Linked DNA regions of Homo sapiens: all the other regions are linked to region 5. Evidence: fine-mapped expression QTL. A gene starts in region 5. Each other region holds a variant in brackets. All regions are shown on one strand. Distances are from middle to middle.

Evidence for each region. PIP is the estimated chance that this variant, and not a neighbour inherited with it, causes the effect.
Region 1: its variant is the best candidate, but not a certain one, in a credible set for the expression of ACTR2 in whole blood (INTERVAL, PIP 0.81).
Region 2: its variant is the best candidate, but not a certain one, in a credible set for the expression of ACTR2 in hippocampus (GTEx, PIP 0.50).
Region 3: its variant is the best candidate, but not a certain one, in a credible set for the expression of ACTR2 in memory regulatory T cells (Schmiedel 2018, PIP 0.66).
Region 4: its variant is the best candidate, but not a certain one, in a credible set for the expression of ACTR2 in putamen (GTEx, PIP 0.53).

Annotation. Positions count from the first base shown.
Region 1 is chr2:65,269,582-65,275,808 of GRCh38, forward strand. ACTR2 (actin related protein 2) reads left to right here. Exons shown (of 9, transcript NM_005722.4): 9 at 1-1,672. Among named protein-coding and RNA genes, the nearest start is that of ACTR2, 45 kb to the left of the region's middle. RefSeq lists an enhancer at 5,512-6,179. The variant G/A (reference allele first, on the strand shown) is at 2,743.
Region 2 is chr2:65,256,851-65,263,077 of GRCh38, forward strand. ACTR2 (actin related protein 2) reads left to right here. Exons shown (of 9, transcript NM_005722.4): 7 at 4,397-4,542. Among named protein-coding and RNA genes, the nearest start is that of ACTR2, 32 kb to the left of the region's middle. The variant T/C (reference allele first, on the strand shown) is at 2,944.
Region 3 is chr2:65,286,542-65,292,768 of GRCh38, forward strand. LOC124907781 (a long non-coding RNA gene) reads right to left here. Exons shown (of 2, transcript XR_007086472.1): 2 at 4,710-6,227. Among named protein-coding and RNA genes, the nearest start is that of ACTR2, 62 kb to the left of the region's middle. The variant T/G (reference allele first, on the strand shown) is at 2,469.
Region 4 is chr2:65,293,690-65,299,916 of GRCh38, forward strand. LOC124907781 (a long non-coding RNA gene) reads right to left here and starts at 2,094. Exons shown (of 2, transcript XR_007086472.1): 1 at 1-2,094. RefSeq lists a silencer at 2,101-2,283. The variant C/G (reference allele first, on the strand shown) is at 2,179.
Region 5 is chr2:65,224,611-65,230,837 of GRCh38, forward strand. It overlaps ACTR2 (actin related protein 2), which reads left to right and starts at 3,221. Exons shown (of 9, transcript NM_005722.4): 1 at 3,221-3,347. The coding sequence starts at 3,300. It overlaps LOC124907779 (a long non-coding RNA gene), which reads right to left and starts at 2,989. Exons shown (of 2, transcript XR_007086461.1): 1 at 2,871-2,989. RefSeq lists enhancers at 2,212-3,101, 3,102-3,990, 4,063-4,152 and a silencer at 3,373-3,562.

The sequences.
Region 1 (6,227 bases), 45 kb after region 5:
CTTTGGGTAATTCGAATTACAGATTTAAAAGAGCTTAAGATCTGGTGTTTTGTTAATGCTTCTGTTTATTCCAGAAGCATTAAGGTAACCCATTGCCAAGTATCATTCTTGCAAATTATTCTTTTATATAACTGACCAGTGCTTAATAAAACAAGCAGGTACTTACAAATAATTACTGGCAGTAGGTTATAATTGGTGGTTTAAAAATAACATTGGAATACAGGACTTGTTGCCAATTGGGTAATTTTCATTAGTTGTTTTGTTTGTTTTGATTTGAAACCTGGAAATACAGTAAAATTTGACTGTTTAAAATGTTGGCCAAAAAAATCAAGATTTAATTTTTTTATTTGTACTGAAAAACTAATCATAACTGTTAATTCTCAGCCATCTTTGAAGCTTGAAAGAAGAGTCTTTGGTATTTTGTAAACGTTAGCAGACTTTCCTGCCAGTGTCAGAAAATCCTATTTATGAATCCTGTCGGTATTCCTTGGTATCTGAAAAAAATACCAAATAGTACCATACATGAGTTATTTCTAAGTTTGAAAAATAAAAAGAAATTGCATCACACTAATTACAAAATACAAGTTCTGGAAAAAATATTTTTCTTCATTTTAAAACTTTTTTTTAACTAATAATAGCTTTGAAAGAAGAGGCTTAATTTGGGGGTGGTAACTAAAATCAAAAGAAATGATTGACTTGAGGGTCTCTGTTTGGTAAGAATACATCATTAGCTTAAATAAGCAGCAGAAGGTTAGTTTTAATTATGTAGCTTCTGTTAATATTAAGTGTTTTTTGTCTGTTTTACCTCAATTTGAACAGATAAGTTTGCCTGCATGCTGGACATGCCTCAGAACCCTGAATAGCCCGTACTAGATCTTGGGAACATGGATCTTAGAGTCACTTTGGAATAAGTTCTTATATAAATACCCCCAGCCTTTTGAGAACGGGGCTTGTTAAAGGACGCGTATGTAGGGCCCGTACCTACTGGCAGTTGGGTTCAGGGAAATGGGATTGACTTGGCCTTCAGGCTCCTTTGGTCATAATTTTAAAATATGGGAGTAGAAAACAACAAAGAATGGAATGGACTCTTAAAACAATGAAAGAGCATTTATCGTTTGTCCCTTGAATGTAGAATTTGTTTTTGATTTCATAATTCTGCTGGTAAATGTGACAGTTAAAATGGTGCATTATGTATATATATTATAATTTAGAAATACCATTTTATAATTTTACTATTCCAGGGTGACATAATGCATTTAAATTTGGGATTTGGGTGGAGTATTATGTTTAACTGGAGTTGTCAAGTATGAGTCCCTCAGGAAAAAAAAAAAATTCTGTTTTAAAAAGCAATCTGATTCTTAGCTCTTGAAACTATTGCTACTTAAATTTCCAATAATTAAAAATTTAAAATTTTTAAATTAGAATTGCCAATACTTCTACATTTGAGAAGGGTTTTTTTAGAAATACATTTAGTAAAGTCCCCAAGACATTAGTCTTACATTTAAACTTTTTTCTTTAAAACATGGTTTTGGTGGTTAACTTTTACACAGTTCTGAGTACTGTTAATATCTGGAAAGTATCTTGAGATATCAGTGGAAAGCTAAACAGTCTAAATTAACATGAAATACTTCATTTTGATTGAGAAAATAAAATCAGATTTTTTCAAAGTCAATTTGAATTTTGTCATTTCTTTCTAATAGTTATTTCTTGTTTCATTTTCTTGTTAATGCAAGATGAATTGACAGTTTATGCTAGTTGTTAGGTCAAGTTCATGTCAGTGTTCTATTATTGACAAAACAACTCATTATTTCTGGTATGATTTTATAAATACATAAGAAAATAGAATAGCGATTTATAGCTACATCAGAGGCTGTTTTCTTCCAACAAACTGTTTTGTCTCCCAAAAGATTTAAGGTGGCTTTCACAGAATTAGAAATGCTAAAGAGACCTGTATGTAACATGCCCCCTTTCAAGGACATATTAGCTCATCTGCAGACTTTTAGGCATATTATTTTTAACAAATAAAAGAAGGATGAAAATACATTTAACTGACCTTTTCTTGTTTTATACTAGCCTTGAGGATGAGGGCTGGAGAGTAGAGAGAGTATTTTTGCCTTTCCTTCTTCGTGGACTTGTATGTGCAAACCTCATTGCCCGCTTCAGGGCCGGAGTCCCAGACAGCGAACGTAAGGGTTGTCTCTGGTGTTTTATCTAGTTTCTTCTGAGTTGCGGAAGAAGAATATGATAACAGCTATCTCCATATGTAATGGAGGAAGAAAATACCAGGCACTGCATAGTGCCTTTGATGGAATGAATGTCTCTCAGTGCACTTCATTTTTTTCCTCCACCCACAAACTTTGACCATTATACAATTGAGTGAGTTTATTAACTGTATTAATTTTAGAACCATCAAAGAGGGTAGCCAACTAAAGTGAACCAGAAACTCGAGGATTAATCTAAACTCGATTTTTTCTTTCTTTTGAGACGGAGTTTCACTCTTGTTGCCCAGCTGGAGTGCAATGGAGCGATCTTGGCTCACCGCAGCCTCCACCTCCCGGGTTCAAGCGATTCTCCTGCCTCAGCCTCCCAAGTAACTGGGATTACAGGCATGCGCCACCACGCCCGGCTAATTTTGTATTTTTAGTAGAGAGGGTTTCTCCATGTTGGTCAGGCTGGTCTCGAACTCCCGACCTCAGATGATCCACCCGCCTCAGCCTCCCAAAGTGCTAGGATTACAGGCGT[G/A]AGCCACCGCGGCCGGCTAAGCTCAATATTTAACATGCTCTCTAACCTTGGACTAATTGGCCAACTACACACAATACTGGGATACTTTTTTCCTCTGGCTCAAAAATCTCTGACCTCTTTGAAGATTGAAAAATGCTACATCAGAGGTAAGTGGAGGAGGTAAGGGGACGTACCTGGGAAAGCATGTTTGCATGTGTGAATAACTAAAAGGCTAAAATTAGTGACTTTAACCATTATATTGAAAGTAACTTTTAGTCATAGAATAGAAATAAACTTGATTTAGAGGAGGTGAAAATAGGCAGCTATTACAAAAATTTCAAGTGATGTTCACATTAATATAACATTTTAAAAACATTCTAAAGCATCTTTCTTTGTATTGTTTAACATCTGAAATTAGGAAGAAAGAAGCTATTGAACCATAGTTACTTTTGTTTAAATTATCTAGACTGGCAGTGACAAAAAGTCTTGTTGCCTATTATAAGTGTCTCAGTTTGCGTTATCTGCAGATGTAAAATATCTGAGTAGGGGGAATTCAAATGATTTATCTCTTCCTTTTGGCAGAATGGAGTTCCTGTCTCTTTCATATCTACCCCCTCAACTCCTCCCACCCACCAGAGGAAAAAAGGAAAGACTGGAAAAGACTTGGCATATAATTTTCCATGAAACATTTGACGTAGGAATAGAAGAATTAGAGAATGTTGAGTAGATTTTCATGGACCAGTTGAAAGGTTTGGGTTTGGCAAGTGCAGAAAGCAATCACAAAGGTATTACAGAGTGATTCTTATGCCCAGGGTAGCCTTTAAGAACTGTACCCTTTGCCATTCACAGCAAGTGGAGCTTTTGCCTGATGAATGCTTTAAAAAATCGGTAAAAAGAAAACTCCAGTGAGTAAAATATTTGTTCTTCCTTAAATATGGGTTTGAAAAAGGGCCTCAACTCTCAAGGATAAGGATTTTTAAAATTATACTTTTTGTGCATAAAAGTGTAATTACGACCGGGCACGGTGGCTCAGGCCTGTAATCTCACCACTTTGGGAGGCTGAGGGGGGCCAGTAACCTGAGGTCGGAGTTCGAGACCAGCCTGACCGACATGCAGAAACCCCGTCTCTATTAAAAAATACAAGATTAGCCAGGTGTGGTGGCACAAGTCCGTAATCCCAGCTACTTGGGAAGCTGAGGCAGGAGAATCGCTTGAACCCGGGAGGCAGAGGTTGTGGTGAGCCGAAATTGTGCCATTGCACTGCAGCCTGGGCAACAAGAGTGAAACTCCATCTCAAAAAACAGAAAATGTAATCATAAAAATGTGAATGCAAATGCATTAATATCAAAGGAGGTTTTAAGAAATTAGGGAAATTCTAAAAGTCTGCCACAATATTAATTGGATCATTTTAAATGAGTATGTTTATGTGAGTGCCTTGATGTTCTGTAGGGGTTGAGATTTTTTTCGAGGTGTCTGTGCACAAGAAAATTAAGCGATCTATTTTACTTTAGAAAACCAAATCTTGCTGGGCATTGTGTAATCCCAACAATTTGGGAGGTCGAGGCAGGCGGATCACTTGAGGTCAGGAGTTTGAGACCAGCCTGGCCAACATAGCAAAACCTGTCTCCACTAAAAATACAAAAAATTAGGTGTGGTGGCGCATACCTGTAATCCCAGCTACTCAGGAGGCTGAGGCAGGAGAATTGCTTAAACCCAGGAGACAGAGGCTGCAGTGAGCCAACATCATGCCACTGCACTCCAGCCTGGGCAACAGAGCGAGACTCCATCTCAATAATAATAATATATAAAAATCTAAGGGTTTCCTGAGTTGTTAATTCTTATATTTTCATATTTTCTTATGTTTACATGTATATATTCTTATATTTTTATATTTTGTGACAACTTAGTGTTTGAAGAGTAAGAAATTTGGGCCTAAATGAGGCTCAGTTGTTAAATTGATAATACACATTTGACCCCTTTATTGGAAACCTACAATTTACCTCCAGATGTGTTTTTTTTTTCCCTGCTAACTTAGATCTACATTTGAAAGCTTCTGGCATTAATTAATTTTTATTTAAGAGCTATTAGGAAGGAGTGGAACCTAAACTATGGTGACAATTTAAAGGACCTTGATTCAAAGAATCAATTAAGGAGGCTGTCCTCTTTGTTTTGCTTTTACTTAGTAGTTTAGGTGGAATTCAAGCAGATAATATTCAACCTCTAAGTTCCCTGCTTACACAACTTGGAATTCTAAAGGAGTCTCTAAAATGAAAACATCCCACAGGAAGTGATGTAGCTAAAGTATGATTATCTGTATTTTTAAAACAAATTACTTGTCCTTCAAATGTCTTTTTCAGTATGGGGTCAGAATCACATGTTCCTTTTGTTAAAAATGCAGGCTCTTAGGCGGGGCGCGGTGGCTCACGCCTGTAATCCCAGCACTTTGGGAGGCCAAGGCAGTGGGGGATCACCTGAGGTCAGGAGTTCGAGACCAGCCTGATCAACACGACAAAACCCTGTCTCTACTAAAAGTACAAACCGGGCATGGTGGCGGTCGCCTGTAATTCCAACTATTCCTACTCAGGAGGCTGAGGCAGGAGAATGGCTTGAACCCAGGAGGTGGAGGTTACAGTGAGCTGGGATCAGCCACTGCACTCCAGCCTGGGTGACAGAGCGAGACTCCATCTTAAAAAAAAAAAAAAAAAAAAAAAAGCAGGCTTCCTTGAGCCCCACTCTGGACCACCGAATGGAGCCTGAGGGTTTGCTTGTTTTCCAACTCTTCCCCCACAACTCTCATACTCCTGTTTTAGGGGCTAAGAGGACAGTCAGGCTTCAAAGTATGAACCACTCTCCTGGGCCCACACCTGCAATGCCCTTCTTTCCTCCTCTTCCTGGGGAAAACTAGGGCTTTTAGCAGATGGGTTCAGAAGTGACACAGGAAGCAGCCCTGGGAAGCCGGAACCACTTAGAGACCATCTTTTGCCAGTGTGCTGACCTCTGCTCCACCTCCCCCAAATGGATCTTCAGTTCAAATGGATGATAAACACCTTTTCATTAAAAAGGCCAGTTCTGGGATGGTTAAAGCACCATCAGTCATTTACACATCCATTTGTATTAAAAGGAAATCCAGAGACTCACACTGACGCCTAGGGGAGATTAGCAGCTCTTTGTGATGTAAGTGAAAGGAAGGTCTGTAACTTTGGCCTAAGGAGTGCATTGGAGAAAATTGGTAGGTTCCTGAGGAAATTCAGTTTTTAGAGCAAGCTCACTTTTTAGGGCAAGCTCACCTTGGTAGATGAGAGTTGAGTGCTGGAAGTGGTAAAATAACCAAAGCAAACTGCTCATTTCAACATTCCTTTCTCCTCGCTTCCGACTTGCAGTGTTCCAGCTTCCTGAACTCAAGCTAGTACAGCTAATGCTACAAGTTTAGCTGCTTGATACATGAAAGTGATTTATAATCAGGCCAAGAAACCAACCTACCAGATGTAGCTTTACTTTTAGAGAGC
Region 2 (6,227 bases), 32 kb after region 5:
GACAGAGCAAGACTCCATGTCGGTAAAAAAAAAAAAAAAAAAAAAGTTAAGATAGTGATCCAAATATTCAGTAAACCCCCATTTAAAATTTTTTTAAATTTATTTTTTATTATACTTTAAGTTCTGGGATACATGTGCAGAAAATGCAGGTTTGTTACATAGGTACACATGTGCCATGGTGGTTTGCTGCACCCATCAACCTGTCATCTGCATTAGATATTTCTCCTAATGCTATACCTCCCTCCCCTTGCCGCCCCCCACCCAACAGGCCCCATGTGTGTTGTTCCCCTCCCTGTGCCCATATGTTCTCATTGTCAGCTCCCACTTATGAATGAGAACATTTGGTGTTTGGTTTTCTGTTCCTGTGTTAATTTGCTGAGAATGATGGTTTCCAGCTTCACCCATGCCCCTGTAAAGGACATGAACTCATTCATTTTTTTATGGCTGCATAGTATTCCATGGTGTATATGTGCCACATTTTCTTTATCCAGTCTAACGTTGATGGGCATTTGGGTTGGTTCCAAGTCTTTGCTATTGTGAATAGTGCTGCAGTAAACATATGTGTGCATGTGTCTTTATAGTAGCATGATTTATAATCCTTTGGGTATATACCCAGTAATGGGATCGCTGGGTCAAATGGTATTTCTAGTTCTAGATCCTTGAGGAATCACCACATTGTCTTCCACAATGGTTGAACTAATTTACACTCCCACCAACAGTGTAAAAGCGTTCCTATTTCTCCATATCCTCTCCAGCATCTGTTGTTTCCTGACTTTTTAAGGATCGCCATTCTAACTGGCATGAGATTTTGTGGTTTTGATTTGTATTTCTCTAATGACCAGCGATGATGAGCTTTTTTTCTTATGTTTATTGGCCACATAAATGTCTTCTTTTGAAAAGTGTCTGTTCGTATCCTTTGCCCACTTTTTCATGGGGTTATTTGTCTTTTTCTGGTAAATTTGTTTAAGTTCCTTGTAGATTCTGGTTATTAAGGCTTTGTCAGATGGATAGATTGCAAAAATTTTTTCCCATTCTGTAGGTTGCCTGTTCACTCTGATGATAGTTTCTTTTGCTATGCAAGAAGCTCTTTAGTTTAATTAGAACCCATTTGTCAATTTTGGCTTTTGTTGCAATTGCTTTTGGTGTTTTAGTCATGAAGTCTTTGCCCATGCCTATGTCCTGAATGGTATTGGCTAGGTTTTCTTCTAGGAGTAAACCCATTTTGTAACTTAATCATCTCCAGATTTGCTCTGGAGATTCCTTCCTGAAGTCTTCTTGACAGTTTCTCTAGTTGTCTGATTTTCCATCTACCTGACTATTTTGGAAGAAAGTGGCTGGCACAGGGCAAAAGATAAGCAAACTAGGAATGTAAAACATGTTTTATTTCTTCCTTCTCTCTTTTCTCAAAGAATTTGAGGTAGGCTACAAAAATATATACAAATAGGCTGGGTGTAGTGGCTCACACCGGTAATCCCAGCACTTTGGGAGGCTGAGATACGAGGATCACTTGAGGCCAGGAGTTCATGGCCAGCCTGGGCAATATAATGAGACCCTGTCTCTACAAAAAAAATACAAAAATTTGCCAGGCGTAGTGGCACGTGCCTGTAGTCCTAGCTAGTTGAGAGGTTGAGGTGGGAAGATTGCTTGAGCCCAGGAGTTCAAGGCTCAAGTTTTGAGGCAGAGAGCTAGGATTGCACCACTGCACTCCAGCCTGGGTGAAGGAGCGAGACCCTGTCTCAAAAACAAAACAAAATCCATATATATATTTGATATATATATGCACACACACACATATACACAAGTATAAAGTAATAAGCTGATGAATAAGTGAGGAGGGACATGGGTGGACAAATACAGAACAGGATAAGATTTGGTGCAAAGAAATGGGATGCCTGCAGTTTTAACAGTTCATTAAGGTGATTAGAAAACTTGACCCCATGCTGGCCAGCAGCCAGAGAATGGAGAGAAGCCACACTATCAGGCTTCAAGTGCTTAAGGCAGGAGGTTTTGCTAATAAGATCTGCTGTGTGAAGTTTTTCCAGATATTTTGGGTGATTTCATGTGAACCCACCTGAAGGTGGAGGTGGTTTTTTTAAGGGTATAAGTTTTGGTAACCTTTTTTTTTTCTTTCTGTTTTGAGACAGGGTTTCCTCACTCTGTTGCTCAGGCTGCAGTGCAGTGGCATGATCTCGGCTCACTTCAGTCTCAATCTCCCAGGGTTAGGTGATCCTCCCACCTCAGCCTCCTAGGTAGCTGGGACCAAAGCTGGAATCTAAACAATCATTGTAATTGGCCAGGCGCGGTGGCTCTTCCCCATAATCCCAGCAATTTGGGAGGCCAAGATGGGAGGATCATTTGAGCCCAGGAGTTCAAGACCAGTCTGAGTAACAAAGCAAGACCCCCGTCTCTACAAAAAATAAAATTAGCCAGCCATAGTAGTGTGCATCTGTAGTGCCAGCTACTTGGGAGGCTGAGGTGGGAGAATCCCTTGAATCTGGGAGATTGAGGCTGCAGTGAGCCATGATCACACCACTGCCCTCTAGCCTGGACAACAGATGAAGACCCTATCTCAAAAAAAATATATATGTATTGTAGGGCCAGGCATGGTGGCTCATGCCTGTAATCCCAGCACTTTTGGGAGGCCAAGCCAGGCAGATCACTTGAGGCCAGGAGCTCGAGACCAGCCCAGCCAACATGCAGAAACTCTGTCTCTACTAAAAATACAAAAATTAGCCAGGCGTGGTGGCACATGCCTGTAATCTCAGCTACTTGGGGGGCTGAGGTATGAGAATCATTTGAACCCAGTAGGCAGAGGTTGCACTGAGCCACGATCAAGCCACTACACTCCAGCCTGGGCAACAGAGCGAGACTCTGTCTCAAAAAAAAATTAAATTATAAATGTACTGTTAGACTTGTTAATGTAAAATTAATTCTGGTATCTCA[T/C]GGAAATGTGTCAAATGCTAGCATACATGGGCGTGCTTATTACTTAGGACAATCCAGTGAATTGTGAGGTGTTATGAGAGGAAGTTTCTACTTAACACTTCTCATTTAATTAAATATGAACATGATGTGTGACTGACAAGATTTTTTTGTACAAAGTCATAATATGATACCTGATTTGTTTAAATCTTATTTGCTTAAATTGAAATTATATTTATCAGTTACTTAAAATGTATTAGGACCTAGTAGGATACAACAGAATTGCCTAATAAAAATAGTCTAGACCAGTGTTCTGTAAACTTTTTTGATCATAAGACATTTTTTGGATTAAATGATTTGATAGAAGTGGTACACATGTTATAAAGTATTTTGGCAAAATAATAGTTTCACAGAGTAATTATTTGATGAAATAAAATTATTTAAAATGTTTAATGTGGCTAGGCGCAGTGGTTCATGCTTGTAATCCCAACACTTTGGGAGGTTGAGGCGAGCAGATCACCTGAGGCCAGGAGTTCAAGACCGCCTGGTCAACATGATGAAACCCCGTCTTTACTAAAAATACAAAAATATGCTGGCGTGGTGGCACATGCCTGTAATCCGAGCTACTCAGGAGGCTGAGGCAGGAGAATTGCTTGAACCTAGGAGACAGAGGTTGCAGTGAGCCGAGATCGTGCCATTGCACTCCAGCCTGGGCGACAAGAGAAACTCTGTCTCAATCAATCAGTCAATCAGTGTTTTAACATGTCTGTTCTACATAGCAGAAATATCCATAAAATCACAAATATGTTAAAATTATAAAACTGTAGTAACACATACCAGCAATAATCAAAATACAATGGTTGGTCAGTGATGCTTGTTTCTGCTTTGCTGCAAACATCATGCACTCATGCATCAGTGATTTCTCCAAGAAATTCCTGATATTTGGGGGCGTGGCATACCTTTTTTTTTTTTTTTTTTGAGATGGAGTCTCGCTCTATTGCCCCTGCTGGAGTGCAGTGGCGTGATCTTGGCTCACTGCAAGCTCTGCCTCCCGGGTTCACGCCATTCTCCTGCCTCAGCCTCCCCGAGTAGCTGGGACTATAGGCGCCCGCCACCACACCCGGCTAATTTTTTGTATTTTTAGTAGAGACAGGGTTTCATTGTGTTAGTCAGGATGGTCTCAATCTCCTGACCTTGTGATCCGCCCAGCTCAGCCTCCCAAAGTGCTGGGATTACAGACGTGAGCCACCACGCCCAGCCTGGCATAACATTTTTAAAAGCAAAACAGAATGTGATAAGAGCAGTTACCTAAATCTATTTAATTTACCTTTTTTTCCCCAAATATATTTTAGGAAAAATTGTTGTTGGTAATGATTTTGGTTACAGAACAGATGTATTTATAAGTACTAGTGTTCCGGAGAACACTGGGAAATTTTAATCTTTTGCTGATTAGTACCTGATTATTCTTGGTTTCTAGCTCCCAGATGGACGTATCATCAAAGTTGGGGGAGAGAGATTTGAAGCACCAGAAGCTTTATTTCAGCCTCACTTGATCAATGTTGAAGGAGTTGGTGTTGCTGAATTGCTTTTTAACACAATTCAGGCAGCTGACATTGATACCAGGTACATTAGAAGTGGTGATTTCAAAGTTATTTATCAGAAAAATCATAAAAATAGTTTTAAAGTTATTTATCAGAAATAGATGGAATTAAATAGAATGACTAAGTTTATAAACTTACTTGAAATAATTTCAGACTTACGGAAAGGTTGCAAGAAAAATGCAGAAAACTTATCTGTATCCTTTATCTGGATTTACCATTTTACTAATTCTAATGTTCTTCATGTTTGCTTTTTCATTCTGTTTTTTCTGAACCGTTTGAGGGTAGATTAAATGCATCAGTTCTTTACTAGTTGGTGTTTCCTAAGGATAAAGATACTCTCTTACATAGTCATGCTGATTTCAGATCCTTTGGAGATACACCCAGTAGTGGAATTGCTGGATCATATGGTAGTTCTATTTTTAACTTTCCGAGGAACCTCCATACTGTTTTCTGTAATAGCTGTACTAATTCACACTCCCACCAGCAGTGTACAAGGGTTTCCTTTTCTCCACATCCTCGCCAGTATTCGTTACCTTTCCTCTTTTTGATAATAGCCATTCCAACAGATGTGAAGTGATATCTCATTGTGGTTTAATTTGCATTTATTTCCCTGATGATTAGGGATGCTTAGCATTTTTTCCATTTGTATGTCTTTTGAGAAATGTCTATTCAGGTCCTTTGCCCATTTATTAATTGGGTTATTTGCTTTCTTGCTATTGAGTCATTTGAGATTTGAGTTCCTTACATATTTTGGATATTAACCACTTATCAGATGTCTGATTTGCAAATATATTCTCACATTCTATAGGTTATATCTTCACTTTGTTGATTAATTCCTTTGCTGTGCAGAAACTTCTTTTGTTGTTGTTTGTTTTTTGAGACGGAATGTCACTCTCTCACCCAGGCTGAAGTGTAGTGGTGCAATCTTGGCTCACTGCAACCTCTGCCTCCCGTTTTCAAGCGATTCTCCTGCCTCAGCCTCCCAAGTAGCTGAGATTACAGGCATGTACCACCATGCCCAGAATTTTTTTTTTTTTTTTTGTATTTTTTAGTAGAGATGGGGTTTTGCCGTATTGACCAGGCTGGTCTCGAACTCCTGGCCTCAAGTGATCCACCCCACCTCAGCCTACCAAAGTGCTGAGAGAAACTTCTTAGTTTGATGTAAATGCATGTATATTTTTGTTAGATATTGCCAAATTTCCCTCTCTGGCAATTGTATCGTTTATCCTTTTCCACCGATCTGATGAGTGAGAAATTATTTCAGTGTAATTTTACTTTTTATTTCTGTCATTAAGAGTGAAGTCAAACCAGGGGTGGTGGCTTCTGGCTGTAATCGCAGCACTTTGGAGGCTGAGGTGGGAGGTTTGCTTAAGCCTAGGAGTTTAAGACCAGCCTGGGCAACATATGGAGATCCTGTCTTTACATAAATTTTTTTCAAAAAGATTAGCCAGGTATGGTGGTGGTGTACTCCTGTAGTCCTAGCTACTCAGAAGGCTGAAGTGGGAGGATTGCTTGAGCTTGAGAGGTAGAGGCTGCAGTGAGCCATGATTGTGTCACTGCACTCCAGCCTGGGTGACAGAGTGAGACCCTGTCTCTCCCCACCGCCACAAAAGAAAGTTCCTAAAAAAAAAACATATATATATATATAAAACATATTTTTATATGTTTAAGGGACTTGTTTGTTTGTTTGAGATAGAGTCTCGCTCT
Region 3 (6,227 bases), 62 kb after region 5:
TGCATTAGAATCATTAGGGAAATTTTTTGAAACATTCTAATTCCTGGACCCATCCCCAGACCACTTGAATCAGAACACAGGTATCAGAATTTTTCAAAAATTCCCCCAGAGGATTCTGATCTTAACCAAATGTGAGAACCACAGACCTAAATAATCTTAAATAACCTTGCTAGATTTAAGTTTCTATGAATCCATGAATGGAATATTCTGAGGAACTGAGTTTTCTGATGAACTTAGAATTCACCACCAGAAATTCCTTTTTGTTTCTATTCCTATTTTTGAAAACTCTTCTAAAGTGAAAAAGTTTAAATAATCTTGAAGGTCCTTCCTACCTTAAAGTTTCTATGACTACATGAGAAGGATATTCAGAGGAGCTAAGTTTTCTGATGAATTTAGTATTTACTAATTTGCCACCAAAAATTCCTTTTCATTTTTATTTCTATTTTTGAAATCTTTCCTAATGTGTAAAATTCCAACCTCCTGTCTAGGGAAGCAGGGACAATAAATTCATAACATGGGGGCCACCACATGCTCTCTTCCCTTGACAGGGCAGACATTACTAATTGATGAAGACACTGACCTCCAACTTGCCATAAAAATCCATCTCACCTCTAGGCAGCCATGACCAATCAGTCAAAGCTGACACTGGAAATGAAACCGATTTGCCATTTTGGGTTTGGTAAATTTAGCTCAGTATTTCTTTCATAATGGGGTATCTTTCAGGGCCTCAAAGGCAAGATTCCAAACAACCCTTCCTCCACTCCATCCTCTCCAAATACACCGGGCTGTAGGACAGGTGGTATGGGGACTGTGCTGAATGTATACTGAGTTCAGATAAACTTTGGGTATAAATAAAATTTTTATAAAATATGTTTTGCTACCATTTACATCTTTTCCTTAAATTTAATCCAAAGAAGCCAGTTCTGGGGAAGCAATATGGCAAGTAGAGTAGGAGCGTGGGTTCAAATCCTGATTCTGCCGCTCACTATTTGGCCCATTTTGGACAACTTCCCTAAATTCTCCTCTCTGTCTTCTCGCCTCAGTCTTCTCATCTATAAAATGGGGGCTAATAATAGTATCTACCTCATAGGGTTATTGTGAGATTTGAATGAAATAATAGACCCAACACCCAGGGTCTGACACGCAGGGAACTCAACAAACCTTACCTATTTTGCTTGCTAATACCATACATTGAGGACTTCATTAAGTGATTTATGGCAAATCAAAATTGCATAGAAGTTAGAAGTAGTAGAAATAATAGTAGAGGAGATAATAGAAATACCTATATTGTGCCCCATTTGCCATCCCTTGGGAGGGAACGAGTCTGCATCCGCTCAAAGAGTCTGTGTCCACCCAAAGTGAGCGCCTTGGCAATGTGGTCTTGGGGGGCAGCCTCCACATCTGGGGTGTGGTCACGTAAGCTTGAAGCACTTAGCAAGAGCTGTGGTGGCCCAAAGGGGGTGTTTTGAAAATTGGCAGGTGTGCTTTTTTTGTTGACTCTGCCGTTGGCATTTGGGGATGGGGAGGAAGCTAGATGTCCTGCAATGTGTCGGAGAGTCCCAGACAACAAAGAACTCTCATGCCCCACATGACTTTCAGATGTTCCCCTAGCCTAAACTCACTACAAATGTAAATCATCAATAATTAGAACACAATGATCCTGAAAATAACTTGAAAGGAGTTACTTGAAAAGCCCAGTAATTTAGAAGACCATTCCATAGAGAGAAACTTTTTTTTTTTGAGATGGACTCTCATTCTGTCGCCCAGGCTGGAGTGCAGTGGCGTGATCCCAGCTCATTTCAACCTCTGCCTCCCAGGTTCAAACGATTCTCCTGCCTCAGCCTCCCTAGTAGCTGGGATTACATACAGGCCTGCACCACCACACCCAGCTAATTTTATATTTTTAGTAGAGACGAGGTTTCACCATGTTGGCCAGGCTGGTCTCGAACTCCTGACCTCAAGTGATCCACCCCCTTCAGCCTCCCAAAGAGCTGGGATTACAGGCGCGGGCCGCTGCGCCTGGCCTATAGAGAGAAACTTAAATGGAAGAAACGTCTTGCCCCGAAATGATTAATTTACTCATACTGTGCTGGTTGCTTGCTCTATGTATTGAGCATTTCTGATTATAAATTTTACTGAAAAGAATTTCAGTACAGTAGGGAGTTTACTGTACAATGAAACCAACTGAAAATAAGAAACAGATTTGAGATTTATTTAAACAAATCTTGAGCCAAATATAAAAGAGCAGACTCATGAAATGCAAGGATGTCATAGGTTTTTTTTTTTTTTTTTTTTGTCTTTTTTTGAGGCAAGGTTTCACTCCGTCACTGAGGGCAGTGGCTGGAGTGCAGTGGCACGATCTCAGCTCACTGCAACCTCCACCTCCTGGGCTCAAGCAATTCTCCTGCCTCAGTCTCCTGAGTAGCTGGGATTAACAGGTTCATGCCACTGTGCCCGGTTAATTTTTT[T/G]TTTGTTTGTTTGTTTTTTTTGTGGAAATGGGGCTTTGCCATGTTAGCCAGGCTGGTCTCAAACTCCTGAGCTGTGGTGATGCGCCCACCTTGGACTCTCCCAAAGTGCTTGGATTGCAGGTGTGAACCACGGCGCCTGGCCTGAGATGTTTTGACACAGGCGTGCAATGTGAAATAAGCACATCATAGAGAATGGGGTATCCATCCCTTCAAGCATTCATCCTTTGAGTTACAAACAATCCAGTTACACTCTTTAAGTTATTTTAAAATGTACAATTAATTTATTATTGACTGTGGGCTGGGCACGGTGGCTCACGCCTATAATCCCAGCATTTTGGGAGGCCGAGGTGGGTGGATCACTTGAGGTCAGGAGTTCGAGACCCGCCTGGCCAACACGGTAAAACCCTGTCTCTACTAAAAATACAAAAAATCACCTGGGTGTGGTGGTGGACGCCTGTAGTCGCAGCTACTAGGGAGGCTGAGGCAGGAGAATCACTTGAACGCTTGAGTCCGGGAGGCAGAGGTTGCAGTGAGCCGAGATTGCATCACTGCACTCTAGCCTGGGCAACAGAGCGAGACTCTGTCTCAAAAAAGAAAAGAAAAAAGAATTACTATTGACTATGATGTGGCCTCTTTCAAATCCATCCTCACTGTCCTTTGTTTCTCACAGGATGCAGCCCCCAAGTTCATTTTAAGTGCTAGAGACTCTCTCCAAAACATACCCTTATCCCAGGTCATAAAATCGAGGAACCACAGTGATGCTGTATTTTGTAAATAAGCCCCAGATCATTCATGACTTTGAGTCTGTAGCTTGTTTTAGTATATTACAGATTGAGTATCCCTTTTCTGAAATGCCTGGGATGAGAAATGTTTCAGAGTTTCTGAATTTTGGGATATTAGCATGTATATAATAAGATATTTTGGGGAATGCGACCCAAGTCTAAACACGAAATGCATTTATGTTTCACATACACCTTATATAGATAGGCTGAAGGTAATTTTATATAATATTTTACATAATTTTGTCCATGAAAAACAACATTTTGACTGTGTTTTGACTGTGACCCATCACATGAGGTCAGGTGTGGAATTTCCCATGGTGGCATCATGTCAGCACTCAAAAAGATTCAGATTTTGGAGCATTTTGGGTTTTGGATTTTCAGACTAGGGATGCTCAACCTGTATCTCTATTTTAAATAACGTTATTTTATTCTTTCTTTTATATACAGATAAGTGTTCTCTATTATTACTTAGCCTAACACTAATTTTTATTTTTTATTCTAATGTCCATTCATACCTCTGCTTTTTTTTTTTTTTTTTTTTTGAGACAGAGTCTCACTCTGTCGCCCAGGCTGGAGTGTAGTGGCGTGATCTCGGCTCACTGCAACCTCTGCCTCCCGGATTCAAGCCTCCCAAAGTGCTGGGATTACAGGCGTGAGCCACCACGCCCGGTATGTTCTTTTATTTTTTTGTTCTTCTTATGAAAATAGCTTCTGATCTTCTTATTTCCCTTAAATCCAAACCCATTCATTATCAGTAGGTGCAGGCATCTGGTGGCTTCAGTGTGTCCTGCTGTGCAGCCACACCTGAGCATTTATATTTTAAAGTACATGTTATTTTATTACACATTTTTAAAAATCTATCCTTTATGTTAAAGAAGTGATTCTCAGCTGGGGGTATTTTGTCCCACCTTGCCCTGGGACATTCACTTTTCGTTGCCAGAACTGGGGGTGAGGTGCTTCTTGAATCTAGTGGGGAGAGGCCTGGGATGCTGCTGAACATCCCACAATGCACAGGACAGCCCCCTCACAAGAGTAAAGTGGCCCAAAATGTCAATAGTGTTGAGGTTGAGAAACCCTGTGTTAGAGTTAGGGTATTACAACTAATTTTAAAAATGTGTGGCCCGGCACAGTGGCTCACCCCTGTAATCCTAGCACTTTGGGAGGCTGAGGCAGGCGGATCACGTGAGGTTGGGAGTTTGAGACCAGCCTGACCAACATGGAGAAACACCATCTCTACTAAAAATACAAAATTAGCTGGGCATGGTGGCACATGCCTGTAATCCCAGCTACTCAGGAGGCTGAGGCAATAGAATTGCTTGAACCCAGGAGGCGGAAGTTCCGGTGAGCCGAGATCGCCCCACTGCACTCCAGTCTGGGCAGCAAGATTGAAACTCCGTCTCAAAAAAAAAAAAAAATGTGTTTAGAGAGGTTATGTAATCCATGAATTTCATCTGGGATGTTAAAGGGAGTTTACAAAATATTTATTATAAAAAGTTATAAACCACTGGCATAAATCAAAATAAGAGGAAGTAGTCTGGGTAGACTTTGGATTCCTCACTTTCACCACAGCCCTTGAACTCATGTAAAGAGAAAATAACTTTGGAAAAGTGTTCTGTCCTTTCATCTCACATGAAAGCCAGAGGTCAAATGTGAAACTCCAGTGTTTCTGAACCGCAGAGCGTCCATCTTTCCAGCTGTGTTTCTCCAATGTCTTCCACCAAGCGGCCTCATTTCAGGTAATATTTGCTCTCTCCTCCCAGTCTGATGATGACTGTTTAGGGAATACCCAAGAGAGTCTAAATTGCTCACAGGATTTGGTAGAAACCACTCCCGTTTCAGTCACCAGCCGGCCCTGGGTCTTTATCACAATTGCTATCCTAGAGGAACACAGCTGCACGAAGGCACCAAGGGCTTCCTCCTTATGCCACAAATATCCTAAGAAGAATGTCTCAGAATTATTTCAAGGTGTGGCACTTAGTGCGGCCAGCATGTGGGAGAAGTGAGTTTGTATACTGTACCACTGAACACATGCCTTCTCAAGATGCATGAGGAGGCCTTCATTATAAGTGGCGTTAAACAAATGGAATGGAAAATTCCAGAGGTTGCAAAACAAAATAGGGGTGAGCAGAGATACTGTCTTCTGATGCAGTATTTAGACCCAAGTTCCGCCATTTATCATGCTGTGTGGCTTTGGGCAGAACCTTATCCTCTCTGTGCCTAGATGGATGTCCTGTTCCGTGAAAAGGGGATCGTGAGGTATGAAGTGACTAGCAGGTGTCAGCACACAAGTTGTGCTGCTAGTTTCTTTGGGTTAATAAATCCACTTGAGGCTGTACTGTATCTCAGCAGGATGGGCCCCGCCCATGTCAGACCTGGAGCTTGCTTTCCATGAGTTACATTTATGGCAGCTCGGTTAGCACTGGGAAAGGATCCCAGGCCTTAAGCCAGCCATGTACTTTGAGCTACCGGAGGCTACTCAATTAGGGACTGGCTTTGGACCTTCAAACCAACTTAAGAGATGGTAATTATTAGCACTTGCTATGTGCAGGTTGTCCATGCATCATCTCATTTTATTCTCATGAGATTCCAAAATAGAGTGCCACTGTCCTGCTAACGCTTGAGGAAAGTGGGGCCCAGAGCAGCGAAGCCACTGCCCAGGCTCACAGCGGCGAGAAGCGAAGGAGCCAGGGCGGGACTGAGCCCAGGCACGGTCCTGACCCGCTGCCTCTGAACCTGGTCAGGGCTTCATCCCTTCCTGCTGGAGAAATCGCTGCCAAAGCCTGCTCACACAGCCCCTGGGCGGCGGAGGCGAGGTGAAGCCAGTCAGCCTTTCTCCGAGACTTCCAACTCACCGGGCCTGGAGCTCGTCCCCTTCTCAGCCCAGCGCTGAGCCCCCAAGACTTGGCTCCCGGCTACCACATCTGCTTGGAGAAGAAATGGGTGTGGCCCAAAGAGCAGATTTATGTTGTCCTCAGCG
Region 4 (6,227 bases), 69 kb after region 5:
AGGATAGGCGGGCGGCAAGCGACATCCAGAAGGAAAAGCTGGGCCTGGTGAGACAAGTGTTGGGGGGCTGAAGAAAAGAGAGACTGAAGGGAGCCATTTCAGGTCTGGGGGGGGCCAGGGGGTAGCAGAATGTAGAAAAGGGTATGCTTTGGGGTTCCTCTAAAAGATGGGAGGAGCTGGCAAGCCCTGGCCTTAAGGAAAGGAAAAGTCCCATCTCTGGGTTCTTTAGCTAACAAAAGCCACTGACCCCTGTAGCTTCCCCATGCCTGTTCAGAAGGTGCTTCAGCCAGTAAAAAGGCAAAAAAGCAGCGTTTTCCCAAATGTGTCCCTGGAAAGACAAATCCCATAAAAGGATTCACCAGAAAAAAGGCTTAAAAAAAAGTTTGAGAAATGAGATGTACAGTCATTTCATCTCAGAGAATCGCAACACACAGAAACTTACCTGCAGCCCTGAGAAGTAAGAGATCCGCAGAACCTGGGTTTCCCAAGTTTATTTTCTCGGGTAGCTCTCACTGCCTAAGGAATTTCCCTTGTGCTCCCGCCCAGTGATGTTGGAGAAGACACCGCAGAGCCACTGGGCTGGGCATCTCCCTCAACAAGGCAGCCTCCTTAAGATCACAGGAAAGCCCCAGGCCTCACGGCAGGTTTACACCCTGTGTGCCCCGGCAGCCCTGTGAAAGGGCAGAAGTCAGTGATCCCAAGGTCTCTTCCAGCTCCAGCACTCTATCCTGTTTCTGCAGCTCATGCCCAATCAAATCTCACTTCAGGGGAATATCCATGGAGTGTGGTGGCCTGGGGCAGTTGTATTTGCTGGATAAATTCACTTATTTAATTCAACAAATATTTCTTGAATCCTTACTATGTGCCAGATACTGTTCTAGGCATTGGGGATTCCAAAGTCAGTAAAATAAAATCTGGGGGAAACAGACTACAGACAAATGTAATAACTATATCATGTATATGTCAGCTAAGGACTTTGGAGAGAAATAAAGTATGGTAAACAAAAAGTGTGGGGTGGCAAGGCTGAGAGAGGGATACTCTGTTAGATAAAGTGATCCGGGAAGGCTTTTCTAAAGAGGTGACTTGTGAGCAGAGACTAGCAGGAAGTGAGGGATAAAGCCATGCGGAGATCCCAGGGCTGAGCGTTCAGGCAGAAGAAACAGCAAGGGCAAACATTCTGAGGCAGGAACAAGGAGGCACACGAGGGGAACATTGTGGCTCAAGGGAATAAAAGAGGGGGAGCGTGTTAGGAGATGAGGTCAGAGAGTGAGTGGGGGCCAGATCTCCTAGGACTGGAAGGCCAAGATAAGAACTTCGGATATTTATTCAGAGATGAGAAGCCAGTGGAGGGGTTGAGGAGGGGCATAATGTGAGGTACAAGGAAGAATTTCTGCTTTCTAATAGGGATAAACAGTTTTCTAAATAGGGAGAGCCTACCCTCTGCCTTGGAACTTATGAAAAGAAGTTGAATTTTCATTTGATGGTTGAAGATCTTGCAAGGCCTTGGTACTGGTCATCCATCGTTGTACAGACACTTACTCAGTACTCCAAGCTCCCACCTGCCATGGTGGCAAGGAATTTGATCTCAGTCATATTTCAAGAGGCAGGTCTTCTTTTCACCCATGGCTACACGTGAGTCCAGCAACTTACAGGTGCCTGGGAAGGGAAGGGTCTCTGGTCTCCAGTCCATCATGGATAATGCAACTTTATGTTCATGGTCCAAGTCCATTGGTCTTTTCAAAGGCAAGCAGCTCTATCCTCCATAACCAACAGGGCTTCCAAGATCCTTCCCTTGGGTCCAGGACCATAGCTCTAAGAACTCAGTCTCCTGGTATCTACTCACCACCCACTGGCAGTCGGGCATTGGTGGATGCTGCATGCATGAGTAAGGCACCGTCACCTTTCCTCAAGCCTCTTATAATCTTTGGTCCAACAGACAAGTACACCAGCGTTTATGGTTGGGGAGGCTGGGCTCTGCTGGGGCAGTGGGATAGAACATAGTGCTGTTTTCCCTATGAGAAATAAGCCAAAGTAGGATACACAACTCCATGTCTTAAGTGTTTTTATTATTTATTTATTTATTTATTATTATTATTATTATTTTTTTATTTTATTTTTTTTTGAGACAGAGTCTCGCTCTGTTCCCAGGCTGGAGTGCAGTGGTGCGATCTCGGCTCA[C/G]TGCAAGCTCCGCCTCCCAGGTTTACGCCATTCTCCTGACTCAGCCTCCCAAGTAGCTGGGACTACAGGCGCCCGCCACCACGCCCAGCTAATTTTGTTTTTGTATTTTTAGTACTGATGGGGTTTCACCGTGTTAGCCAGGATGGTCTTGATCTCCTGATCTTGTGATCCACCCACCTCAGCCTCCCAAAATGCTGGGATTACAGGCGTGAGCCACTGCGCCCGGTCCTATTTTTTATTTTTTGAGATGGAATCTCACTCTGTCATCTCGGCTTACTGCAACCTCCATTTCCCAGGCTCAAGTGGTCCTCCTGCCTCAGCCTCTCAAGTAGCTGGGACTACAGACATGTGCTACCATGCCTGGCTAATTTTTTTTGTATTTTTGGTAGACACGGGGTTTCACCATATTGCTCAGGCTGGTCTCGAACCCCTGACCTCAAGTGATTCGCCTTCCTTAGCCTCCCAAAGTGCTGGGATTACAGGTGTCAGCCACCGTACCCGGCCTTAAGATTTTTTTAGAAAGATAACTTGAAACTCTGGGTGATGGGAATCAGGCAGGGGCAGGTTCCGACTGAGCCCTGAAACCTCACCTGGACCCTCCACTCCGCCTGGGAGGAAGACCCAGGTCACCTTAGTCAGGAAGCAGGAATGCCGCAATGACCTGCCGCAGTGGAGATTTGTCCTCTTCTGTGTACAACATTTTTCAGTAAAGGGTACGGTGTCAGCTGGCAGCATTGCTGCAGCACTAATGAAGTTTAGGAAGTGCTTAGCTGAAAAGGGCATGGGTGGGGTAATTGAATTGGTGTCAGACACATAATGGCTTTGAGAGTCTTTTCTCCCTCATTTGATAAGAAGAGCCCTTTCCCTCACATCCTCCGTAAAAGCTCAAGGAGAAAAGGATGTTCACCCAGCTATACATCAATCCTGTCTATTGACTACGAGTTTTGGGAAATCATATGGAGAAGCATACTTTTTACGAAGGCTTTGGGGACTGTTAATAGCAGGCTGGGCAAAGCACAGGAAGAGGCTACGAATGAGTGTTTTCCACAGGACGCTGCCAGGTGATAAAATATTAAAACCATTACCAACACTCCCACTTCAAGGAATGGTCTTAATGATTCTGTCAGATATCTGGGTCCTGTGGTCAAATGGACAGTGAGCTTTTTGGGCCTCATCAAAAAATAGCTTACTGGGTGCCAGGTCCTGTGCTAAACGCTTACACGTTGTCTCCTTTCATCTTCACAACAACCCAAGAGGGAGGAGCTATTGTTATCCCCATTTCACATATGCAAAAACTGAGGCTTGCCCAAAACCACACAGTTCTGATGTGGCAAAGCTTGGCTTGAAATCTAAGATTGGGATTCCAAAGCCAATGCTTTCCTTCTTTACTTCCCTGATTAAAAAACGTAAAGGTGGCCTGGCGCGGTGGCTCATGCCTGTAACCCCAACACTTTGGGATGCGGAGGCAGGCGGATCACCTGTGGTCAGGAGATCAAGACCAGCCTGGCCAACATGGTGAAACCCTGTCTCTACTAAAAATACAAAAAAATTAGCTGGCCATGGTGGCGGGTGCCTATAATCCCAGCTACTTGGGAGGCTGAGGCAGGAGGATCGCTTGAACCCAGGAGGTGGAGTTTGAAGTGAGCTGAGACCATGCCATTACACTCCAGTCTGGGCAACAAGAAAGAAACTCCATCTCAAATAAATAAGTAAATAAATAAATAAATAACCTAAAGGAAAACAGACTACATCCATATACGGTTAAAAAGAAAAGTACAAGAGCTTACAATAAAAATTAACTCTCTGTCCCACCAGACCCAAGTCCAGAGGCAACTACCGTTACTGCTTCCTTGTTTACCTTCCGACTACAGAGAATACACACACAGATGTGTACACGATTGTGTCTACGTGTATATATATAAAATGGGTGTGCACTATCCACACTGTCTGCACCTTGCTTTTGGCACTTAACATTTCTCGGAAGACTTTAGCAAAACCTAACAAAGACAGCTGCCTGATTTTAATATGGCTGAATAATGGTTCGTCGTATAGATATAGAGGCGCTTAACCAGTCTGCTCCTTAGGGACATTTAGGATGTCTACATTTTTGCCATCAGCAATAATGCCGCAATGCGCATCTTCAGGGAAATGCCCCTGCACACGTGTGTGAGCAACGCTGTGCTTTTAATAACAAGAGCAAGATGATATCCCAGGACAGGTGGGTTCACTGTCCAGGTCACTAGCTCAGAGATTGCACTTGTAGCATCGCAAAGGCATTGAGGGTGGCACCAAGAAGGCCATGCAGGCCCTCGGCTTTGGGATATTCCATACGAACGACCCTCCAGGTTTGACAGATACAGACCTGGGCACCCCAGGGACATTTCTGAATGTAAACAAGAATATGGATAGCAGGGCTTCCTCTTTCCAGCCGCCATTTCATCACAGCACCCTTAGGGCAGCCAGGAACTGTAAAGGTTGTCTGTGAAGACTGCTGCCTGGGCAGATGGGGACCTTCATGCCTAGATCACCAAAGGAGGCATGGATCAAAGTCCAGAGAGTTGAAGTAGCTTGCCCAAGGTCACATAGAAGGTGGGGAGGACCTTGGCTCTAGCAGGCCTGCTCAACAGAGGTTTGTCTCGTCTCTGGTTGTTACTAAGGCTCAAGAAGATCTTGATGCCCTCTCTAGGCCCAGGGGAGTGGGTACAGTACCAATGAGTGATGCCTCCCCTGCTGGTAGCAGGCAGTGGTTAGTGTCCTTGTCACGATTTCTTTTTCTTTTTCTTTCTTTTTTTTTTTTTTTTTTAAGACGGAGTCTCACTCTGTCGCCCAGGCTGGAGTGCAGCGGCGCAATCTCAGCTCACTGCAAGCTCCGCTTCCCGGGTTCACGCCATTCTCCTGCCTCAGCCTCCTGAGTAGCTGGGACTACAGGCGCCCGCCACCGCGCCTGGCTAATTTTTTTTTTTTTTTTTTTGTATTTTTATTAGAGACGAGGTTTCACCGTGGTCTCAATCTCCTGACCTCGTGATCCGCCCGCCTTGGCCTCCCAAAGTGCTGGGATTACAGGCGTGAGCCACTGCGCCCAGCTTCTTTTTCTTTTTTTGAGAAGGAGTTTTTGTCTGTCGCCCAAGCTGGAGTGCAGTGGCATGATCTCAGCTCACCGCCACCTCCACCTCTTGGGTTCAAGCGATTCTCCTGCCTCAGCTTCTTGAGTAGCTGGGATTACAGGCGTCTGCCACCATGCCTGGCTAATTTTTGTATTTTTAGTAGAGATGGGGTTTCACCATGTTGGCCAGGCTGGTCTCAAACTCCTAACCTCAAATGGTCTGCCTGCCTTGGCCTCCCAAAGTGCTGGGATTACAGGCGTGAGCCACTGTAACCGGCCTCGTCACTATTTTATAAATTCCCACTATTTTTTTTATTAGTCAGGATAGTATATGGTGGTAACAAACAAACCTGAAATTGTACTGGCCTATTACCAAATTTATTTTTCACTTACTCATTCACCCCCGACTCAGGGAACTCCCCTGTCAGCTGTCCTCCCTATGGTGACTCAGTGACCCAATCTGCTTTCATCTTGTGGCTTGCCACCTCAATGTGTGGCCTCTAGAACTGCCCCGGGGGAGGGGCACATCGCTGGGACAGGGTATGGAGGATGCAGGCAGATCACACACTGACCCTCAAGTGTCTCACCCCGGTCACTTACAGCCCACTGGCCAGAATTATTCACGTGGCCACGCCTAACTGCAAGGGACTTGGAATGGCAGGGAGGGGTCTCCTGGATAGTCTTGAGCAGTATGTGTCTCTGCCAAGCTCCTAGGCTGGTGGGGCTGGCAAATACGGGCTGCTTTAAGCAGGGGAATGACCACAGGTCTGTGGGGAGGTTGTTAACAGTAGATTTGGGGACCAATATTAGCTTTTAGGTGCTACCCAATTGCTAATTCATCTGCAGGGGTCACTTATTTTTCCTAACCATCTTACTGTAGAATAAAACACACATACACAGAAAACCTCACAAAACAAATGTAGAGTTTAAGCTGAGTAAATAAATG
Region 5 (6,227 bases):
ATCTATTCAAATATTTTCTTCTAGTTCATGGCTTTTCTTTTTCTTTTTCTTTTTTTTTTTTTTTTTTGAGATGGAGTTATGCTCTGTTGCCCAGGCTGGAGTGCAGTGGCATGATTTTGGCTCACTGCAACCTTTGCCTCCTGGATTTAAGCAATTCTCCTGCCTCAGCCTCCCAAGTAGCTGGGATTGCAGGTGCCCGCCACCACGCCCAGCTAATTTTTGTATTTAGTAGAGATGGGGTTTCACCATGTTGGCGAGGCTGGTCTCAAACTCCTGACCTCAGGTGATCCACTCGCCTCAGTCTCCCAAAGTGCTGGAATTACAGGCGTGAGCCACTGCGCCCGGCCCTTTTGCTTTATTTTCTACTTTTTTTTTAATTGCTTGTTGCCTAAGACAGACCAAGATTTTTTGTTTTTGTTTTCTTCTTCTTTTTTTTTTTTTTTTTTTTTTAGATAGGGTCTGGCTGTCACCCAGGCTGTAGCGTAGTAGCGCAATCTCAGCTCACTGCAAATTCTGCCTCCTGGGCTCAAACCATCTTCCCACCTCTGCCTCCCAAGTAGCTGGGACTATATGCACAGCTAATTTTTGTATTTTTTGTAGAGATGGGGTTTCACCATCTGGCCTAGGCTGGTCTTGAACTCCTGAGCTCAAGCGATCCACCCACCTTGGTCTCCCAAAGTGCTGGGATTACAGATGTGAGCCATTGTCCCAGTCTAGATTTTTTGTTTCAATACATGAACTAAAAGCTTTAAATTTCTATTATGTCAACTATCAATTTTTTCTTTTATAGATCACGATTTTAGCGTCATATCTAAGCAAACTTTGCTTAACTTAATATCAAAAGATTTTCCTCTTTTTCTTCTGAAATTTATAGTTTTAGCTTTTATATTTAGGTCTATGATCCACTTAAATCAATTTTTATGTGTGATGTGAGGTAAGAATCAAAGTTCTTTTTTTTCCCTCCCACATCATTCATTGAAAAGATTACCCTTTCCCCATGGATTGTTTTAGCACCATTGTTGAAAATCAACTGACCATAATGTAAAGGTTTATTTGTGGACTATTTGATTCCATTGATCGATATATCTGCCTCTATGCCAGTATTACAGTCTTCATTACTGTAGCTTTATAATAAGTTTTGAATTCAGGTAGTGGAAGTTCTCCATCTTTTTCTGTTTCGAAATCCTTTTATTCTGGTTCCTTTTCATTTCATATAAATTTTAGGGCCAAACTTGCCAATTTTTTTTTTTTTTTTTTGAGACAGAGTCTTGCTCTCACCAGGCTGGAGTGCAGTGGCACGATCTCTGTCACTGCAACCTCTGCTTCCCGGGTTCAAGCGATTCTCCTGCCTCAGCTTCCTGAGTGGCTGGGATTACAGGCGCGTGCCAACACGCCCAGCTAATTTTTGTATTTTTAGTAGAGACGGGGTTTTGCCATGTTGGTCAGCCTTGTCTTGAACTCCTGATCTCAGGTGATTTGCCCTCCTTGGCCTCCCCAAGTGCTGGGATTACAGGCGTGAGCCACCGCGCCCGGAATAATGTTCTTTCTTTAAAAATACAAATTAGCAATCCCCTTAATTCCACAAAGAGGAAAAGTAAAAGAACACAGAAATGCTTGAGTTCAATTTGCTGAGACCAATAAAATGCACTTTCAAGAAAACTGCACAGCACTAGCATTGGAGGCCACAAAAATAAGATACGGACTCTATACTCAAGGAATTTATGAACAAATAAATTTTTCTGCTGGCTGAGGTACTTCTCTGACTGTTAAAGCAGGTAAAACGAAGAAATGTTCCTCCGAGACTTCCTACCTATTCTAACCTCTCAAACTTCTAATTGCAACAATGGCAGCTTTATTTTTATCTTAATATTTATGTGTTGAGGGTTCCATATAAGATTAGATTTGAATAAAGCACTGTATGCCTTTAAAAAGGTTTGAAAATCACTGGTCTAATAAAAGAACAGTGAAAACTGACAGGCAGCTATATTATAAAAAGAATACTGGATTGAGGGTTCATGATGACTGTTTTATTCTAGTTGTTGAACATGTACAGCCATGTCGAAGGAAAAGTTCTATTTCTCACCTCTCATAAAGGATGGCATTTTAAAGGTGAATTTTAATGTCATTCATCTAATAAATATTTGTTGCATGCAATAAGCACAATGTTATTCATATATTCATAGTAAAGTAATAGGGAGAAAGGAAGTACGGAATATCCTGAGGATATCAGCTGTCATCAGAGATGTAACAAGCTGGGTCTCAGAGCACAAGTTTGCCAATTGATTAAAAAGGAAAAAAAATGAGGCATCGTAGATAGAATCATAGGTCCAGAAGAACAGAATTAGAAATAGCTACCACTGAATGAACATTTCCTCCATGCATAGACTTTTATCCTCACCACACCTATGGAGATAGAAGTTATTATCCCCATGCAGACAGGGGTATGCCAAAATCACAAAACTCGTGAGTGGCAGCGCCACGTTTGAAACTGGGGTTGTCTGATTTCAAAGCCAAGGCTCTGGGTTCACAGAAGTACATGTACTTAAGAGGTGTGAAGCAACATGGGACTACTGGAAGGAGGCGGTGAGCCACGAGGCTGGAAATGCAGGCACCTGCTCTCGCTCACTTGACCATAGAGCAACTTGGGCAAAGAAGGGGTGGGCTGACATTGGAGTATGGAACAAACGCATGATTTCAAATAAGCATGTGTGTATCCATCCCAGTTCTGTCCGCTGAAAAGGCCTAGAAGCAATAACACACCAAGCCCTGTCGAATGGTGGGGTCCGCCAGGACCTCCAGGCTTGCTCCCCGCCCTACCCGCCAGCTTCTCCGCCACATTCCACTGCCGCAGCAGAACCGGTGTCCTTCACCTGCCTGCGTCTTCTGCAGTTCGTTAAGCAGCGCCCTTAGCTCCTGTGACACTTTAGGGAGAAAGCCGCAGCACCGGCGATGTTGGCCGCCATTAACGCCCGGCAAAGCGCCCGGAACTAGAAGCAGCGAAGAACCCGGGTGGGCAGCGACCGTGACAGCCGAGCCGGAAGCGGAGCTGCGGGAGGGGCCTCGACGCTCCTCCATCTTTTATTGGAGCTCACCGCTGCCAGTCGCGCTGCCTGCCCGTCCCACCCTTTTCGTGCAGGCATTCAGCTAAATGACGGGCGGAGCCCGGCGGCGGCTTCCGGTCGGGGGAAAAAAGTTGGGCCGAAGGAGGGGCCGGGAAGACGCAAGAGGAAGAAGAGAAAACGGCCGGGCGGCGGTGGCTGTAGGTTGTGCGGCTGCAGCGGCTCTTCCCTGGGCGGACGATGGACAGCCAGGGCAGGAAGGTGGTGGTGTGCGACAACGGCACCGGGGTAAGGGCCGCGCGAGGAGGCCTTGGCGGCCACAGACGCCGGCGGGGACGAGCAGCTGGCGCACGGGCCCTCGGCCCCCAGGGCTGCACCTCCGGGCCCTCGGGGCGAAGGGGCGCGGGGCGGTGCCTCCCACCTCCGCGGGCGTGGGAGCGAGCCGGCCGTTCCCTGGTCTCCCTTGAGCCTGCCACCCATTTAGCCTGCCACCCCCTCACCCTTCCGGGTGGGGGCGGCGGGCGAGACCGGCACTGGACATGGAGCCTACTGACCGCCCGGCAGGGACCTGCTCCGCGCTAATGCGGGGGCAATTGGGCTAAAGCGGACGGAAGCGTAAAAGGCTCGGTTTGTGTGTTCCGAGAAGGGCTCTTTTCCCCAGGGCCACCGGTTTGTAAAAAGGAGAAAGACCTAGAGGCCTTCCTCTTCCTGTATAGTTGAAGATACACCAAACGAGAAGCAGGAAGCGGGTTTACTTAAAAAAAAAAAAAAAAAAAGGGAAGTGCTGTCATGGAGTGTGGACCTCAGCCCTTTCGCTGTGTTTGTTGGGCTTTTTATTAGTTTTTTCGAGGGAAGGGGTCCAGATCGGCAGCGCATCGTTCACTTTTTGTTTTACATACTAGTATTTGGCCCAGGAGTAGGCCCACGGAGACCAGCATGTTCCATTGAGTGGTTTTGGGTGACCTAGGATCCCGCAAGACTCAAGTGTTAATTCCACTAGCCTTAGGGGAAGTTAATTAGTGTTGATTATCCCACCCCCAGCCCCCTTTTTTCCCTTCGTTTCAGTATACAGGTAATGTTAGCCTTTAAGATTCAAAAATTGTAAAATCTGACTAAAGCACTGATTTAGAAACTATTTGAAAATTGTTTCTGTAATCCCAGCACTTTGGGAGGCCCAGGCGGGCAGATCACCAGAGGTTAGGAGTTCGAGACCAGCCCAGCCAACGTGGTGAAACCCCGGTCTCTACTAAAAATACAAAAATTAGCCGGCCGTGGTGGTGCTTGCCTGTAATCCCAGCTACTTGGGAGGCTGAGGCAGGAGAATCCCTTGAAGCCAGGAAGCGGAGGTTGCAGTGAGCCGAGATTGCGCCACTGCACTCCAGCCTGGGCGACAAGAGTGAAACTCCGTCTCAATTATAAAAAAAAAAAATTGTTTCATTCAGACCTCCCTCTTGCCAGATTAAAAAAAAATGTATTTTGGGTAGCAAAGTCAGCAAATTAGAAGATGGAAATATTATTTATTCTGGATGACTTCTATAGTGATTTCTAACCATTTTGATGTTGCAACATTTTGTGAGTTTTCTCCCCTCCCTCCCATAAATATGATGTATGAATTAAAGTTCATTTTACTTGAACAAAACACTTTGGAATCTGAATTGTTGAGGGGGAAAAGAGCTGGTATTTACTGCCATAATACTGCCCTTGATTAGATTTGTTACACAATTTTACAAGCAATAATTATGGTAGCTTCATCTGAACTGTGTTAAAAATGGACTAGAGTAAAAAGAGTGTTAACGTACATTGAGGCCAGGCGCGGTGGCTCATGCCTGTAATCCCAGCACTTTGGGAGGTCTAGGCGGGCGGATCACCTGAAGTCAGGAGTTTGAGACCAGGCTGGCCAACATAGTGAAACCCCGTCTCTACTAAAAATACAAAAATTAGCCGGGCATGGTGGTGGGCGTCTGTAATCCCAGCTACTCGGTAGGCTGAGGCAGGAGAATCGCTTGAACCCGGTAGGCGGAGGTTGCAGTGAGCCGAGATCGCACCACTCCAGCCTGGGCGACAGAGCAAGACTCCGTCTCAAAAAAAAAAAAAAAAAAAAAGAAAAACAAAACATATTAATGTGACGGTTTTTAAGAATGTAATATTTTTAAAAAGGCAGATCCACTGCTATGGAAACGTCTAAGATTTTAAGTTGAAAAAGGTTTTAGAATGATTCAGTTTAAGTGTGTGTTCCTTATTAAAGATGTATGTCCACAAACTTGTATCCGCATATGAAAGTTTTGGAGGGATACATAAGAAATGTTCATAATGGTTACCTATGAGACAGAGGATAAGGGAGTGAGGGAAGATGGAGAGGACTTCATGACCTTTCTGAATTATTGGAAAAATGTTCTTTATTTGAACAAAGCAAGTATTATTAAACTATATTTAAACTAAATTAACCATAAACGCATGTTACATGTGCGGCTAAAATTCAGTTAAATGTGCTTTTTAAAAAAGTATTAGCCTGATTTCCACTATAGTTTCAAATTGGCCTCTAAATAAATAAAAAACTTTAAAAATTGAATTTAAAATTTTTTGTTTTGTGATTGTGTCAGATACTCTTTTTAGAAAGTCAAGCCAGTTATATTTTAATGAATTCTTTTAGGGGTTCAAGGTAATGAGCCCTGTATTTGTAGTATATATGAGTTTTTAAATATTAAATTAGAATGGGAATGTTAACCGAAGCTGATTTTTTTTTTTTTTTTTTTTTTTTTGGACACAGGATCTAGCTCTGTTGCCCAGGCTGGAGAGCGATGGCGTGATCTCGGCTCTCTGCAACCTCTGCCTCCTGGGCTCAAGCGGTTCTCCTGCTTCAGCCTCCCGAGTAGCTGGGACTACAGGCTTGTGCCACCACACCCAGTTAATTTTTTTATTTTTGTAGAGACTGGGTCTCCCTATGTTACCCAGGCTGGTCTTGAACTCCTGGGGTTAAAAGATCTGCCCACTGCGGCCTCCTAAAGTGCTAGGATTACAGGCTTGAGCCACTGCACCCTGCTGTCAGAAGCTAATGTTATGTTACTATTCCATTAGTTAGCTAACATTAGAAGGCTGATTTTAGGCTGGGCGTTGTGGCTCATGCCTGTAATCCCAGCACTTTGGGAGGCCGAGGTAGGAGGTTCACTT